Linked DNA regions of Homo sapiens. The protein of the gene in region 1 purifies or fractionates together with the protein of each later gene. This does not show direct contact. Each region holds a gene or a part of one and is shown in the gene's direction. Other genes may lie near its edges.

Region 1 (4,264 bases):
TTTGTGCTTGATGCTCTCCCCAACACCACCCCCAATGCTCTCACCCACCTCTCTCTTCCTCCTCCCCTACCAAAATACACAAACATGTTAATTCCTAGTTATCTCAAGTGATCTTTGAAGCATTTCCTGATTTTGCCCACATCTGTGGGTAGCTTTGCATTTTCCTATTGTAGTACTTCTCAAATTAAGTCTATTTACCTGTCTCCTCCTTTGCATAGTAAGCACTCTGAAAATAAGAATGTTTCTTTTACATTTTTGTATCTCTATTTCTGGGGCTCAAAACAGTGCCTAGCACAAGTAGACACTCAACAAGCATTTTTTGAATGAGTGTATAATTATATAGTCTGTAGATATAAGGATTTCTGATCTTGAGACTCTCTGAAAGCCTTGCTCCAAAAGTGTGTCTGATTCCTAAGCATTAATCTTTTTCTTCCAGGGTGTGGGGTTCTAGGTAGGTGGAGAAGGAAAACAAAAGCGCTCAGGACGCGTTGCCTTTAGCTCTCCGGAGAGCCAGTAATGTGTCCTGCCTTTCTCCACCCTCCTCCCTACCACCTTTCCACACCTGGGTGCCCAAGATGGGTGTAGACTTAGCTGACCAGCCCAACAACATACTCATACCTTGGTTCAGACTTCTCTTATTACCAAACTAAAGTTGGCCAATACACATAAACAATTTTCAACTTGTCTTTTGAACGTATACTTTATGAAATTTGTATGTCTTAAAAATTGTAGGCCTTAAAATGAACGAACCCGGATTCTTTTATAGTAATCAAGTAAAATATAGGGGTCTTAATTCTGTACTTTGCCTTTGCTAATCTTAAAGTTAGATGTGACTAACTGAGCAAAGTAATTAATTACGGGACTTTGATAGTGGTGATATTCCTAAGTTTTATAACCTAATTGTTCAATTACTGGAAACAACTACATTTCGACAAGTCTTAGGTAAAGAAAATTGAATTTAGCCGGAGAAGATTCAATTGAGGGAAGTGAGGGACAGAGGTATTTGTGATTTAGGGTTTGTGGAAGATAAATTACGCAGCAGGGAAGACTGAAATATGGAGAGAAAGTCAGACCTCACTGGGTACTTATGACTGGTAAGGCTAGGAGTTGGAGGTGGAGAAAAGTAGGAAGGACCGTCTAAGGGTTGGATCCCCAACAACACCATAATACAAGACCGTCCTTGTTCAGCCAACAGCAGCACTGAACACGTTCGCTAAGTGTGTCGGTGACCATGGTAACGGTGGGAGGGGGCGGTCCAAACCTCGCCCTCGAGCATGCTCAGTGCAGAGCGAGCCTGGTAGGGTGCTGGACAACAATGAATCCCTTTTTTCTTCAACCGGAGAACTACAATTCCCAAGAGCCTTCTCGGTGCGGCGACACCGCCTTCCGCTGTGGCCCTGCCCGGTCCCCTCCCTCAGGCCCCGCCCCCCGGCTAGACCCCTCCCCTCCTTGCGAGTGTATGTCAGTGACCCAGAGGCGGTGTGAGGCGGAGGGACCGTCGGGGGGCGCCGCCGCCGCCTCCACTAGCAGCAGCGGCAGCAGCCCTAGTCCCGCGGTGCGGTCGAATTGGTCCCCAGCCCTCCGGGAGCGCACCACAAAGCAGCCCCAACGCCTCTCCCTGCGTCCGCGGCTCCTCAGCGCTCGGCTCCGTGGTCAACTTCCCCTCGCTGGGCTCGGCTGGCGGGCGCGGAGGGCAGCGGCGGAACGGCGGGCTGTCTGCTCGCGCTCCCCGCGCACAACACTTCACCCTCTCGCCTCGGGTCTCGGGGGCCGCTCTGGGATCCCGGCCACCAGCAATTGTCCGGTAAGTGTGACCGCGGGGCGCCGCGGGATGGATGGCGGCGGGGCCGCCGAGGGGCGCGGGGAGGGCGGGCGCGCAACTTCCTCGGCGGCTTCCCCGGCGGCCAGCAGCCGGCTCTCCCCGCCCGCCTGCGCGCCCCCGCTGCGGCGGGGAGCGGAGTTTGCGGCGCCTGCATCCCGCGCCCTGGCTCGAGGAAGCGCCTTTGTCAGGAACCGGCCCTACGCGGCCTCCCCCTCCGCCCGGGAGCGGGGCGCGCGGCGGCCAACTCCGAGCCCCGCGCCTGGCTGGCCGCGCGCTCCGGCTGCGAGAGGGGAGCTCTGCGGGTGGCGGGGAGGAGAGGGAAATGGGAGAAACAAAAGGGGCGGTGGGTTTCCCTTTTGTTTGTGCGGATCTGATAACTTCTTTTCCTCCCTTACATAACGCAGACTTCAAGTTAGTCATTCTTTTTATTGTTATGATTGTTGTCATCATCTCTGCGCGTCTTTCACATTTCCTTTCATCTTTGGATCTCAGAGCATTTTAAACACGCTAATTAATTTCACCCCCGGGTCCCCTAGGAAACAAGTTAATACGCCCGTTTCCCTAAGTGGGTAAACTGAGGTCGTGAAAAGCTCTCAAATTGATGGATACGCTTGATCTTCTACCGCGCCTCGTGTCTGAGTATATGAAAGCGTTTATGAGGAAGAACCCGTTCTCCAAAGCCCCGTGGAAAAGTTAAAGATGCTCATTTTACTTACAGGTTAACTGAAGTCCAAAAGATGTCTAGGTAATTGTTACGTAGTTCAAACCATAATTCTTCTTACATAGTGTTTGAATCTTAAAACCTCTAAAGACTTAGTGAAAAATGCTCCGAGTAGGGAAATTAATGTAAATCATAAACTCACGTCACCATCTACTTTTATTTTTGTACGTGCAGGTCTGTTAGAGGCAAGAGAGCAAGAAGGGGACAGAGGGCAGAGGTTTTTTAAAAATGTACATTTAACAGATTTTAATCACTACACACAAGGAAATGTGCCTTGGTTTTAACAGCACCAACAATATTCCTGTCGTTTAGTCATCAAACAGTATATCAACAAATGTTATTGAGAACTTTATTCATAAGGTGCTGGTTGTGCTAAAAACTGAAGCTTTATATATAAGAAAAGGTCATCTGTTTCGGTTCACAGGCTCTTTACTTTTTCTTACTCTGCAAAATGTTACTTTGTTTTCATTGCACATGATCTTTTGTTTCAGAAATGGCATTGTCCTTTACTGTGTCGAATATGTATTACTCTTACACTTAAGGATAAATGAATTTATTATTAAGTTTTCATAATAGGGTGAATTTAAAATATTTTAATTGTGGTAAAGGTTCACTTTATTCAGTTCTGTTTCAGTTTACGATGCGTTTTCTTTATAGCCAACAAAATATTTTCTGAGTGATAAGATTTACATGTCTCAAAACATTGTTCTTAGTGTACAAATACAGCATATGAATTCCTTGTTTTTTTTATTTATACCAACAACCTCTTCTGGGGAAAAGTCTTTAACTCTGAGGACCTTATTTATTTTGTGAGTTTTTATTTCTTCGGTACCATACTGGAAAGCACCAAAAATTTAAACCAAGCATCACTTCTACTAGCTCTTTCCTCAGGTAAATAATAATCAGAACTGTAGTAATAGTGAATAGTTTCACTTACTCTAAATTCTCTTAAATTTAATTTTGTACTATATAGTTGTCCTTACATTTTAGATTTTGGTGGTTGCATCAGAAAATGAAAGTGAGATGTTCGTTATTTTATTTTTTTTCCCAAAGCCTTCTAACCTGTTCCCTTTCTATAGTATGTTAAAAGAGATCTTGAGTTTAAAATAAATAATTGGAAAGTAGAACAGTTATATGTATGGAAAGTTGCATGTAGTGAAGTGGTTATAGTGTCTCATGTAGTGAATGTACAGGTTTTAAAGAGGAAACTATCACCTAGCTTTTTATTAGCATGGTAGAAGTGCTGTAATGTAATAGTAGTAGTATTTATTTGCTTCTAAAAAGTAAGCTGGAAATTTGCCTCAGTGGAATTTGTAGGGGGAGGGAATCCATTCTTTCCTTAAGATTGGCATTTAAATGTTCTTACAGTTGGTTATGTTGAACTTTTTCTGTGGTATTTTCAAGCCAGATTTACCAGGAACATTTGTACTTCAAGGAAGCTACTAACACTGTCTTGGCTCAGTCACTGGAATCCACAGGCAGAAGTTAGTGTTGACTGGCAAAGTCTGGCTTTGCAGGTTTCATAATTTCTTTGAGACCCCTTAAAGGAAATGACTGAAAAGTACGGGGTAGGAAGTTAGTCTAGTACTGCCAAATGCCACTGAGGCAAGTTTCAAAGGGGAAGCCAAAGGATGTTTCCATTTGATTTAAGTTCAGCCTCTTCTGGGTTGTCAGAATGTCACTTTTGTATTTTAAGAGTTCTATCATTTCAGAATATGATG
Region 2 (3,500 bases), on another chromosome or scaffold:
TGGGATTACTGGCGTGTGCCACCACACCCGGCTAATTTTTGTATTTTTAGTAGAGATGGGGTTTCACCATGTTAGCCAGGCTGGCCTCGAACTTCTGGCCTCAAGTGATCTGCCCACCTTGGCCTCCCAAAGTGCTGGGATTACAGGCATGAGCCACTGCGCCTGGCAAAAGATGATTTTTTGTATAATAAAGTTATTTAAAGTACTTAGGAAAAATTTTTAAAATATGAATATTATGGTGTTGAGAAATACTTCCTATGTCATTTTCCTCTGCTTTTCCCCTTCTCTTTTGTCATCTAAATGAAGAGAAGCCAAAAGCTGTACCTTGTCTTAAATTTTGGTTAATCATTTGCTTCTAAGAGGTAGATAAGACCTTACTATTAATTCTGTATTAAAGAATTGTTATCACTCTTTATTTAGATTTTCAGATTCTACTTCAAAGACTCCTCCTCAAGAAGAATTACCTACTCGAGTGTCATCTCCTGTATTTGGAGCTACCTCTAGTATCAAAAGTGGTTTAGATTTGAATACAAGTTTGTCCCCTTCTCTTTTACAGCCTGGGAAAAAAAAACATCTGAAAACACTCCCTTTTAGCAACACTTGTATATCTAGATTAGAAAAAACTAGATCAAAATCTGAAGATAGTGCCCTTTTCACACATCACAGTCTTGGGTCTGAAGTGAACAAGATCATTATCCAGTCATCTAATAAACAGATACTTATAAATAAAAATATAAGTGAATCCCTAGGTGAACAGAATAGGACTGAGTACGGTAAAGATTCTAACACTGATAAACATTTGGAGCCCCTGAAATCATTGGGAGGCCGAACATCCAAAAGGAAGAAAACTGAGGAAGAAAGTGAACATGAAGTAAGCTGCCCCCAAGCTTCTTTTGATAAAGAAAATGCTTTCCCTTTTCCAATGGATAATCAGTTTTCCATGAATGGAGACTGTGTGATGGATAAACCTCTGGATCTGTCTGATCGATTTTCAGCTATTCAGCGTCAAGAGAAAAGCCAAGGAAGTGAGACTTCTAAAAACAAATTTAGGCAAGTGACTCTTTATGAGGCTTTGAAGACCATTCCAAAGGGCTTTTCCTCAAGCCGTAAGGCCTCAGATGGCAACTGCACGTTGCCCAAAGATTCCCCAGGGGAGCCCTGTTCACAGGAATGCATCATCCTTCAGCCCTTGAATAAATGCTCTCCAGACAATAAACCATCATTACAAATAAAAGAAGAAAATGCTGTCTTTAAAATTCCTCTACGTCCACGTGAAAGTTTGGAGACTGAGAATGTTTTAGATGACATAAAGGTTTGTGTTAAATGTTCAAGGATTTTGATTAAAATGATTGCTTGTGATTTCATTTAGAGCTAACAATTATTTCTGTTTTAGAGTGCTGGTTCTCATGAGCCAATAAAAATACAAACCAGGTCAGACCATGGAGGATGTGAACTTGCATCAGTTCTTCAGTTAAATCCATGTAGAACTGGTAAAATAAAGTCTCTACAAAACAACCAAGGTGTGTACACCATAAACAGGATCTCCACTTTTTTAATGACTTCAGATTGAATGTCATTATTTACTTTTTTAAATAGATTGAATTGTTTTGGAAAAAAACTTATTTCTTCCTTCAGGTGTCTGTATTTATAGGACGATTCTCACATTTTACCGGTGATTTTTCTGTTCTTTTTTTTTTTTTTTTTTTTTTTTGAGACGGAGTCTCGCTCTGTCGCCCAGGCTGGAGTGCAGTGGCGCGATCTCGGCTCACTGCAAGCTCCGCCTCCCGGGTTCACACCATTCTCCTGCCTCAGCCTCCCGAGTAGCTGGGACTATAGGCGCCCACCATGCCCGGCTAATTTTTTTTTTTTGTATTTTTAGTAGAGACGGGGTTTCACCACATTAGCCAGGATGGTCTAGATCTCCTGACATCGTGATCCACCAGCGTCGGCCTCCCAAAGTGCTGGGATTACAGGCGTGAGTCACTGCGCCCGGCCACTTATATACGTTTTTAAACTCCTTTAAAAACATTGTTGGCCCGGTACGGTGGCTCACACCTGTAATCCCAGCACTTTGGGAGGCCGACGCTGGTGGATCACGATGTCAGGAGATCGAGACCATCCTGGCTAACGTGGTGAAACCCCATCTCTACTAAAAACACAAAAAATAAGCCAGGCATGGTGGCAGGCGCCTGTAGTCCCAGCTATTCGGGAGGCTGAGGCAGGAGAATGGTGTGAACCCGGGAGGTGGAGCTTGCAGTGAGCCGAGATCGTGCCACTGCACTGCACTCCAGCCTGGGTGACAGAGCAAGACTCCGTCTCAAAAAAAAAAAAGAAAAAAAAAATTGTTTGCCTTAAGATATATAGGCATCTTTTCATAATTTTGCTATATTTTATTATTATTATTATTATTATTTGAGACAGGGTCCTACTCTGTCACCCAGACTGGAGTGCAGTGGCATGATCACGGCTCACTTGCAGCCTTGACCTCCCAGGCTCAGGTGGATCCTCCCATCTCAGCCCCCTGGATAGCTGGGACTACAAGCATGCACCACCACACCCAGCTGATTTTTTTATTTTTTGAAGTGACTGGGTTTCGCCTTGTTGCCCAGGTTGGTCTCGAACTACTGGACTCAAGCCATCTGCCTGCCTTGGCCTCCCAAAGTGCTGGGATTACAGGTGTGAACCACCCACGCCCAGCCTGCTATCTTTAAAAAAGTAATTTTTTTTTTCAGCCACCAAACATTTCTGTAGTTCAAGTGCAGTATTTTTTCTTGTATTCTTCATTGGCAAGTTATTCCTTTATTCTGGGTTTATTTTCCCTTTTTCCTGAAGCACAGTCATTAGTTGTTTTTCCAGTGAGTGTTTTAGTCTCTATATGAAAACATTTTTTTCACTATCATTCATGATTTTTTTTGAGCTTTTTGTTTTTATTTTTTTCATGGTTGCTCTAGGGATTACAGTATCTACCTACTTAGCCTTTTACAATCTACTTGGAGTTAATGTACTATTTCATGTTCTGTAACTACACTTTATGTAGTTCCTGTGTATTTTATCTACATATATTGAAAACCCCATCAATGTTATAGTTTTTAATTTTAAAAAATTTTAATTGAAATATAAATCACATACCATAAAAATCACCCATTAAAATGTTCAATTCAGTGGTTTGGTATACCCACAGAGTTGTACAACCATCACTGTAGTCTAGGTTTACAACATTTTCATCACTTTCCTTCCCCATATACCCTCTGCAGTCCTAGGCACCTTAAATCTACTTTCTCTCTTTGTAGATTTGCCTATTCTGGGAGTTTTCATATAAATGGAATCGTTTAATATATGATCTTTTGTTACTTCTTTCACTTGGCATAATGTTTTCAGTTATCTGTGTTACAGCATATATCAATATTTTATTTCTTTTTATTGGATAATTTTTTATTGCATAAGTATACCATATTTTAGGTATTTATTAGCTGACATTCAAGTTGTCACTTTTTTGCTAT
Region 3 (3,500 bases), on another chromosome or scaffold:
AAAAAAAAAAGTCGGCCGGGCGTGGTGGCTCACGCCTGTAATCCTAGCACTTTGGGAGGCCGAGGTGGGCAGATCACGAGGTCAGGAGAACGAGACCATCCTGGCTACCATGGTGAAACCCCGTCTCTACTAAAAATACAAAACACTAGCCAGGCTTGGTGGCGGGCGCCTGTAGTCCCAGCTACTCGGGAGGTTGAGGCAGGAGAATGGCATGAACCCGGGAGGCAGAGCTTGCAGTGAGCCCAGATTGTGCCACTGCACTCCAGCCTGGGCAACAGAGCGAGACTCTGTCTCAAAAAAAAAAAAAAAAAGAAAGAAAGAAAATTAGCCGGGTGTGGTGACACATGCCTGTAATCCCAGCTACTCAGGAGACTAACGCAGAATCACTTGAACCTGGGAGGCGGAGGTTGCAGTAAGCCAAGATGGCGCCACTGCACTCCAGCGTGGGCAGCTAGAGTGAAACTCCGTCTCAAAAAAGAAAAAGAGGTGGGATCTTTAGGGGCGCTTACCATCTTAATGTGGTCTCACCATGTGACTCACACACCCCGCGGTGCCCCCACTTAAGGAGGAGTTGCAAGCGCAGCATAGCTTTTGCACACATGAAGGTGGTGGCCTCTCTCCTTTCTCCCCCAGAGTGGCCCAGTCAGGCTTTTTGTGCCTTACAAAAGGCGCAAGAAGGAGAATGAACTGCCCACAACTCCCGTGAAGAAGGACTCCCCCAAGAACATCACATTGCTTCCAGCCACCGCGGCTACCACCTGTGAGTTTGAGAAAACACAGCTCTAGTTTACTGAGGGGACCTGAGTGCATTGCCTTCTCTCGTCACCACTCCCACGGCCACTGCGGGATTCTCACTTCTAAAGCACATTGCGTGGCCAGAGGGATTCCAACGCCATCACACTCCTTTGCAGTGCGTCCCCCGGGTGGGAAGGGGTGTCCCAGTGCCCAGCTCGGTCTTGCTTCCCTGGGACCCGGACACTGTTGGCCTTGTCCTGGGCTGTTTCCTAGTATGAGTGAGCATGGCTGAGTGCCCAGCACACGCTCAGGGGACGTTTCCTGACAAGGGCGTCCTTGGTGAGGGATTCTCAGTGCGCTGGACGAGGGCTGCGGAGAGCTCTGTGGGTCTTTCTCTGTGGCCGGGCTGGAGGGCGGCGTCAGGATCCCGGCTCGCTGCAGCCTCGGCCTCCCAGGCTCAGGCACTGCTCTCACCTCAGCCTCCCAAGTAGCTGGGACCACAGGCACGTGCCACCATGCCCAGCTAATGTTTTTATTTTTTTGTACAGACAGGATTTAAATGGGGAGAGGTAGCAATAGGAGAAAATGTCTTTGTAATAGGCTTTTGTTAACTAAGTCTGGGTTTTTGCATTTATAGAGTAAGGTCTTTCTAAAACACCCTGTCAGCTCCTTCCTGAGGCCCTGGGTGGTGGGTGCAGGAAGAGTCCCACAGCAGCAGAGTCTCAAGATCTGTCGCCAGGATTTTTTTTTGAGCTGGAGAGGCAGCCTTGCTGTGGGACACAGGGCAGCCTTGCTGTGGGACACGGCTGCTTTTTACCTTCAGCTTGGATTAAAGATTTTTTCTTAATTCGAACCACGAAGTACTTAAAAATCACTGAAAGTTTTATTTTATGTTTGTTTTCTGGCTGGGCAGCACATTTCCATGGTTCACAGTTTAAACAGCGAACAATTGGTAGTGGCAAGTTGCCATCCTGGCCATCCTGGTTTTCTCCTGTGAGGTCTTCTCCAAGGTCTGGGATTTCCCCCGTGTCCTTCACATGGGAGGGTACAGTTACCACTGCCCGCCCTTCAGCCCAGGCCCCCACAAGGATTGGCGCCCGTGGGTGGCACGGGACCTGTGTGCCGTGGGCGCCACTGCCTGGCCGCGTGAAATGTGCTTCTGCCTTTCCAGTCACCGTGACCCCCTCGGGACAGATCACGACCTCGGGGGCACTGACCTTTGACCGAGCGTCCACGGTAGAGGCCACTGCTGTCATATCAGAGAGTCCGGCCCAGGGCGACGTCTTCGCAGGGGCCACAGGTGAGCTGCTCCAGTGCCTGCCTGACGCGTCCTCAGCATATCCCTGTCTGTGACATCACATCCCCGACGCCACATTGGGCTGCATAGGCTGCTGGGTGCCTCGAGAGGGGCCTTGAACCAGGCGTTTGTTGGTGGGGACAGCGTGTGAGCCACGTCAGGTGGGCGGTGCAGTGTGGATGGGGTTGGCGTGTGGCAGTGGGTTACTTGTGACAGATGCCAGAACTGGCAAAGCTGAAAATACTCTCTGTCTGCCGGCTCCTGCTTTTGACTGCAGTTGTGCAACAGAAATGCAGCCTAGCTGGTTGTGTGCTGGAGAATATTCTAGAAGCCACACTGAGGAAAATAGAGTTAGAACTGATTTTTTTTTTTTTTTGAGGTGGAGTCTCGCTCCATCCCCCAGGCTGGAGGGCAGTGGCATGATCTCGGCTCATTGCAAGCTCCGCCTCCCGGGTTCACACCGTTCTCCTGCCTCAGCCTCCCAAGTAGCTGGGACTACAGCGCCTGCCACCATGCCCGGCTAATTTTTTTTTGGTATTTTTAGTAGAGACAGCGTTTCACCATGTTAGCCAGGATGGTCTCTATCTCCTGACCTCGTGATGCGCCCATCTTGGCCTCCCAAAGTGCTGGGATTACAGGCGTGAGCCACCGCGCCCGGCCTGATTTTTATAATCTATTTTATTTCACCTGATATAGCCCCAATCCTATTATGTCAACGATTCAGGATCACCACATTTCAGGGGCTCAGTAGCCACGTGTGGCCATAAGCTACTATGTGTACTGAATGGCGCAGCCATACAGCGTGATATTTAGAGTCTGCTGTGCGGACAACCATCCCGAGCCTCCCTGTCCTTTTTCTCCCCAACAGTCCAAGAGGCCAGCGTGCAGCCCCCATGCAGGGCCAGCCACCCTGAGCCTCACTACCCCGGCTATCAGGACAGCTGCCAGATCGCACCGTTTCCAGAAGCTGCGTTGCCAACGTCACATCCCAAAATAGGTAGGTTTGAAAGAATTCACACATGTACAGGTTATTGTCCTCAGAATTGCTTCCAATGAAAGAATTCCTAAGTGAAATGGGATTCATTTTGGTTTGGTTTGTTGTTTTTGTTGATGCATTAGATCAGTGGCTGGTAAAGTGTGGCCCACTGCCTATGTTTGTAAATAAAGTTTTACTGACACACAGCCACGTCCATTCATGTGTGTGCTGTGGAAGTTGCTTTTGGTACAGCAGCAGGGCACGCCCCTAGAAACCAGTTGGCCTGTGAAGCCTGAAGTTCTTTCTGGTGAGTTTGCTGTTGTCCTCTTGAGGGTAGACACTCCCCAGTGGCAGGTCTTGGTCTCTCCAGAGCTGGCATAGACATTCGGTATCTGGTGAAAGAAAGAAAAACCAAGGCCTAAATGTGGCCTAAATCTTTAAAATGACGATACACTGTAAATGCATTCTAACTTTGATTTTTCGTTTAACTGC
Region 4 (3,500 bases), on another chromosome or scaffold:
AAAAAAAAAAGATTATCTGGGCGTGGTGGCAGGCTCCTGTAATCCCAGCTACTCAGGAGAGTGAGGCACAAGAATCACTTGAGCCCAGGATGCGGAGGCTGTAGTGAGCCTAGATCGCACCACTGCACTCCAGCCTGGGCGACAAAGTGGGACTCCGTCTCAAAAAATATATATATGTATATATATTTTACTGACATGTAGGCTGGGTGCAGTGGCTCATACCTGTAATCCCAGCACTTTGGGAGGCCAAGGTGGGAGGATCGCTTGGGCCCAGGAGTTCCAGACCCCGTCCCTACAAAACATTAATAATTAGCTGGGCATGGTGGCATGTGCCTGTAGTCCCAGCTACTTGGGAGGCTGAGTGGGAGGATCACTTCTTAATCCCAGGAGGTTGAGGCTGCAGTGAGCTATGATCACACCACTGCACTCCAGCCTGGGTAACAGAGCAAGATCCTGTCAAAAAACAACAACACAGGAGGCTGAGGCAGGAGAACGGTGGGAACCCGGGAGGCAGAACTTGTAGTGAGCCGAGATCGCGCCACTGCACTCCAGCCTGGGAGACAGACCGAGACTCCGTCTCAAAAAAAATAAAAAAAACAAAAAAGAGTGTGAATTCTAAGTGTTAAACTCAATGAATTTTCAGCATGACGCCCAGCCCCACTGCTACCCTGTCCCAGCATGGCCCTTCTCCACACTTTATCATCTATGCCCTCTTATCAGCTAAAAATTGGAGGGTACGTGCCAATGTATGTTTGCTTTTTGCTTGGTAAGTTATACACACAACCGTTCCCAGGAAACACCGGGAGGTGGGAAGAGCAGTTGATTCGTGGATCATCGAACTTAACGGGGGGTGGGGGTATTGGACCGTATTCCAAGTAGTTGTCTTGATCATTTCAAAAAGTTTTGGCCGACTTGTGGTCCCACCTGAATATAGGATCTTTTTTTTTTTTTTTTTGAGATGGAGTCTCACTCTGTCACCCAGGCTGGAGTGCAGTGGCACCAACTCGGCTCGCTGCAAGCTCCGCCTCCCAGGTTCACACCATTCTCCTGCCTCAGCCTTCCGAGTAGCTGGGAGTACAGGTGCCCGCCACCACACCTGGCTAATTTTTTGTATTTTTAGTAGAGACGGGGTTTCACCGTGTTAGCCAGCACGGTCTCGATCTCCTGACCTCGTGATCTGCCCGCCTCGGCCTCCCAAAGTGCTGCTGGGATTACAGGCGTGAGCCACCGCGCCCAGCCCATTTTCATTTTTATCCCATTTTATGTAGAGCTTACAACAGAGATAGAAGCTGGGCATCTGGCCTTTTTCTTTTTTTTTTTTTTTTTTTTTTTTTTTTTTTGGAGACAGAGTTTCACTCTTGTAGCCTAGGCTGGAGTGCAATGGCATGATCTCAGCTCACCGCAACCTCCGCCTCCCGGGTTCAACCTCCACCTCCCGGGTTCAAGCGATTCTCCTGCCTCAGCCTCCCGAATAGCTGGGATTACAGGCTTGCGCCACCATGCCCGGCTAATTTTTGTATTTTTAGTACAGACGGGGTTTCACCATGTTGGCCAGGCTAGCCTCGAACTCCTCACCTCAGGCAATCCACCCGCCTCGGCCTCTCAAAGTGCTGGGATTACAGGCGTGAGCCACTGCGCCCGGCCGTCTGGCCTTTTTCTTATTGTCCGATTGTGCCTGCATTATTTTATTATTATTATTATTATTATTTCCTAAGATTATTAGGAAAAACCTTTTATCCTCCACTTCTCTAGAGGAGTACTTAGGCCATATGCTTATTTCCTGAACATTAGTTTAATTAAAACTAGGTGAGGCTGTTTCTCAGGCCCCATAACCAGGTCCACATAAGCTGGAGTCTGTGTTAAATCTGAAAATGTTAAAAGGAGCCAAAAAGCTCAGTGGATTCTAGAACCAGACAGCCTGGGTTCCAATCCAGCTGTATCCCTTATGAGCTGTGTGACTCTGGACTACTTACTCAACTTCTCTGTACCTCTGTTTCCTTGTGTCAAAAAGGGGCCATACTCCAATATTACTGGACTGTAGTGGAGATGTCTAAAACTGTGCTGTCCAACAGAAATATAACATGAAGCAGCCGCGAACAGTGGCTCACGCCTGTAATCCCAGCACTTTGGGAGGCCGAGGCTGGCAGATCACTTGAGGTCAGGAGTTCGAGACCAGCCTGGGCAACATGGTGAAACCCCGTCTCTACTAAAAATACAAAAATTAGCCGGGTATGATGGCGGATGCCTGTAGTCCCAGCTACCCGGAAGGCTGAGGCAAGAGAATCGCTTGAACCTGGGAGGCAGAGGTTGCAGTGAGTCGAGATCATGCCATTGCACTCTAGCCTGGAAAATGGAGCAAGACTCCATCTCCAAAATATATAAATAAATAAATAAATATATATATATATCTCCTAATAATACATTTTATTAATCCAATATGTAAATGCATTTAATAATATATTTTATTTAACTCAATATACCCAACATGGTCCAATATAATGTTCCATTACGAATGAGGCATCTTCCATACCTTTTTTATTTTGTTGTTTTTGAGACAGCGTCTCACTCTATTGCCCAGGCTGGAGTGCAGTGGCGCGATCTCCGGTCACTGCAGCCTTGATTCTCCTGGCCTCAGGCGATCCTCTGACCTCAGTCTACCAAGGAGCTGGGGCCACAGGCATGCACCACCACACCCAGCTAATTATTTTTATTTTAATTTTATTTATTTATTTATTTGTTTGTTTCTTTATTTTGAGATGGAGTTTTGCTCTTGTTGCCCAGGCTGGAGTGCAATGGTGTGATCTTGGCTTACTGCAACCTCTGCCTCCTCGGTTCAAGCGATTCTCCTGTCTCAGCCTCCCGAGTAGCTGGGATTACCAGCACCTGCCACCATGCCCTGCTAATATTTTTTATTTTTAGTAGAGACAGGGTTTCACTGTGTTGGCTAGGCTGGTCTCGAACTTCTAAACTCAGGTGATCCACCTGCCTCAGCCTCCCAAAGTGCTGGGATTACAGGCGTGAGCCACCACACCCGGCCTATTTTTATTTTTTGTAGAGATGGGTCTCACTGTTGCCCAGGCTGGTCTCGAACTCTTGGGCTCAAGAGATCCTCCTACCTCAGCCCCCTAAAGTACTGGGATTATAGGCATGAGCCACTGCACCCTGCCTTAATTAATTAAAAATTAGATAAAATGCCGGCCGCGGTGGCTCACGCCTGTAATCCCAACACTTTGGGAGGCCAAGGTGGGAGGATCACTTGAGCCCAGGCAACATGGGGAGACCCAGTCTCTACAAAAATACAAAAATTAACGGGTACATATCCAGGTTTGTTATATAGCTAAATGGCATGTCACAGGGTTTGGTGTACAGATTATTCCATCACACAGGTAATAACTGTCGTACCTGATAGGTAGTTTTTTGTTGTTGTTGTTTTAAGACAGAGTCTCGCTCTGTCGCCCAGGGTGGAGTGCAGTGGCGCCATTTCAGTTCACTGCAACCTC

Evidence for each region. The genes of interacting proteins can lie anywhere in the genome.
Region 2: the proteins of PELI1 (region 1) and RBBP8 purify together in Homo sapiens (affinity purification with western blotting, with the first as the bait; one study listed by BioGRID). This does not show direct contact.
Region 3: the proteins of PELI1 (region 1) and DEAF1 purify together in Homo sapiens (affinity purification with western blotting, with the first as the bait; one study listed by BioGRID). This does not show direct contact.
Region 4: the proteins of PELI1 (region 1) and TICAM1 purify together in Homo sapiens (affinity purification with western blotting, with the first as the bait; one study listed by BioGRID). This does not show direct contact.

What each region holds. Positions count from the first base shown.
Region 1 is NC_000002.12:64,141,621-64,145,884, reverse strand, and holds the start of PELI1 (E3 ubiquitin-protein ligase pellino homolog 1), read left to right. Parts: upstream 1-1,464; 5' UTR 1,465-1,804; intron 1,805-2,358; exon of another isoform or gene 2,359-2,567; intron 2,568-4,264. UniProt on the Homo sapiens protein: E3 ubiquitin ligase catalyzing the covalent attachment of ubiquitin moieties onto substrate proteins. Involved in the TLR and IL-1 signaling pathways via interaction with the complex containing IRAK kinases and TRAF6.
Region 2 is NC_000018.10:22,992,328-22,995,827, forward strand, and holds part of RBBP8 (DNA endonuclease RBBP8), read left to right. Parts: intron 1-420; coding exon 421-1,312; intron 1,313-1,393; coding exon 1,394-1,520; intron 1,521-3,500. UniProt on the Homo sapiens protein: Endonuclease that cooperates with the MRE11-RAD50-NBN (MRN) complex in DNA-end resection, the first step of double-strand break (DSB) repair through the homologous recombination (HR) pathway.
Region 3 is NC_000011.10:678,223-681,722, reverse strand, and holds part of DEAF1 (deformed epidermal autoregulatory factor 1 homolog), read left to right. Parts: intron 1-633; coding exon 634-760; intron 761-1,906; coding exon 1,907-2,035; intron 2,036-2,900; coding exon 2,901-3,029; intron 3,030-3,500. UniProt on the Homo sapiens protein: Transcription factor that binds to sequence with multiple copies of 5'-TTC[CG]G-3' present in its own promoter and that of the HNRPA2B1 gene. Down-regulates transcription of these genes.
Region 4 is NC_000019.10:4,825,213-4,828,712, reverse strand, and holds part of TICAM1 (TIR domain-containing adapter molecule 1), read left to right. Parts: intron 1-3,500.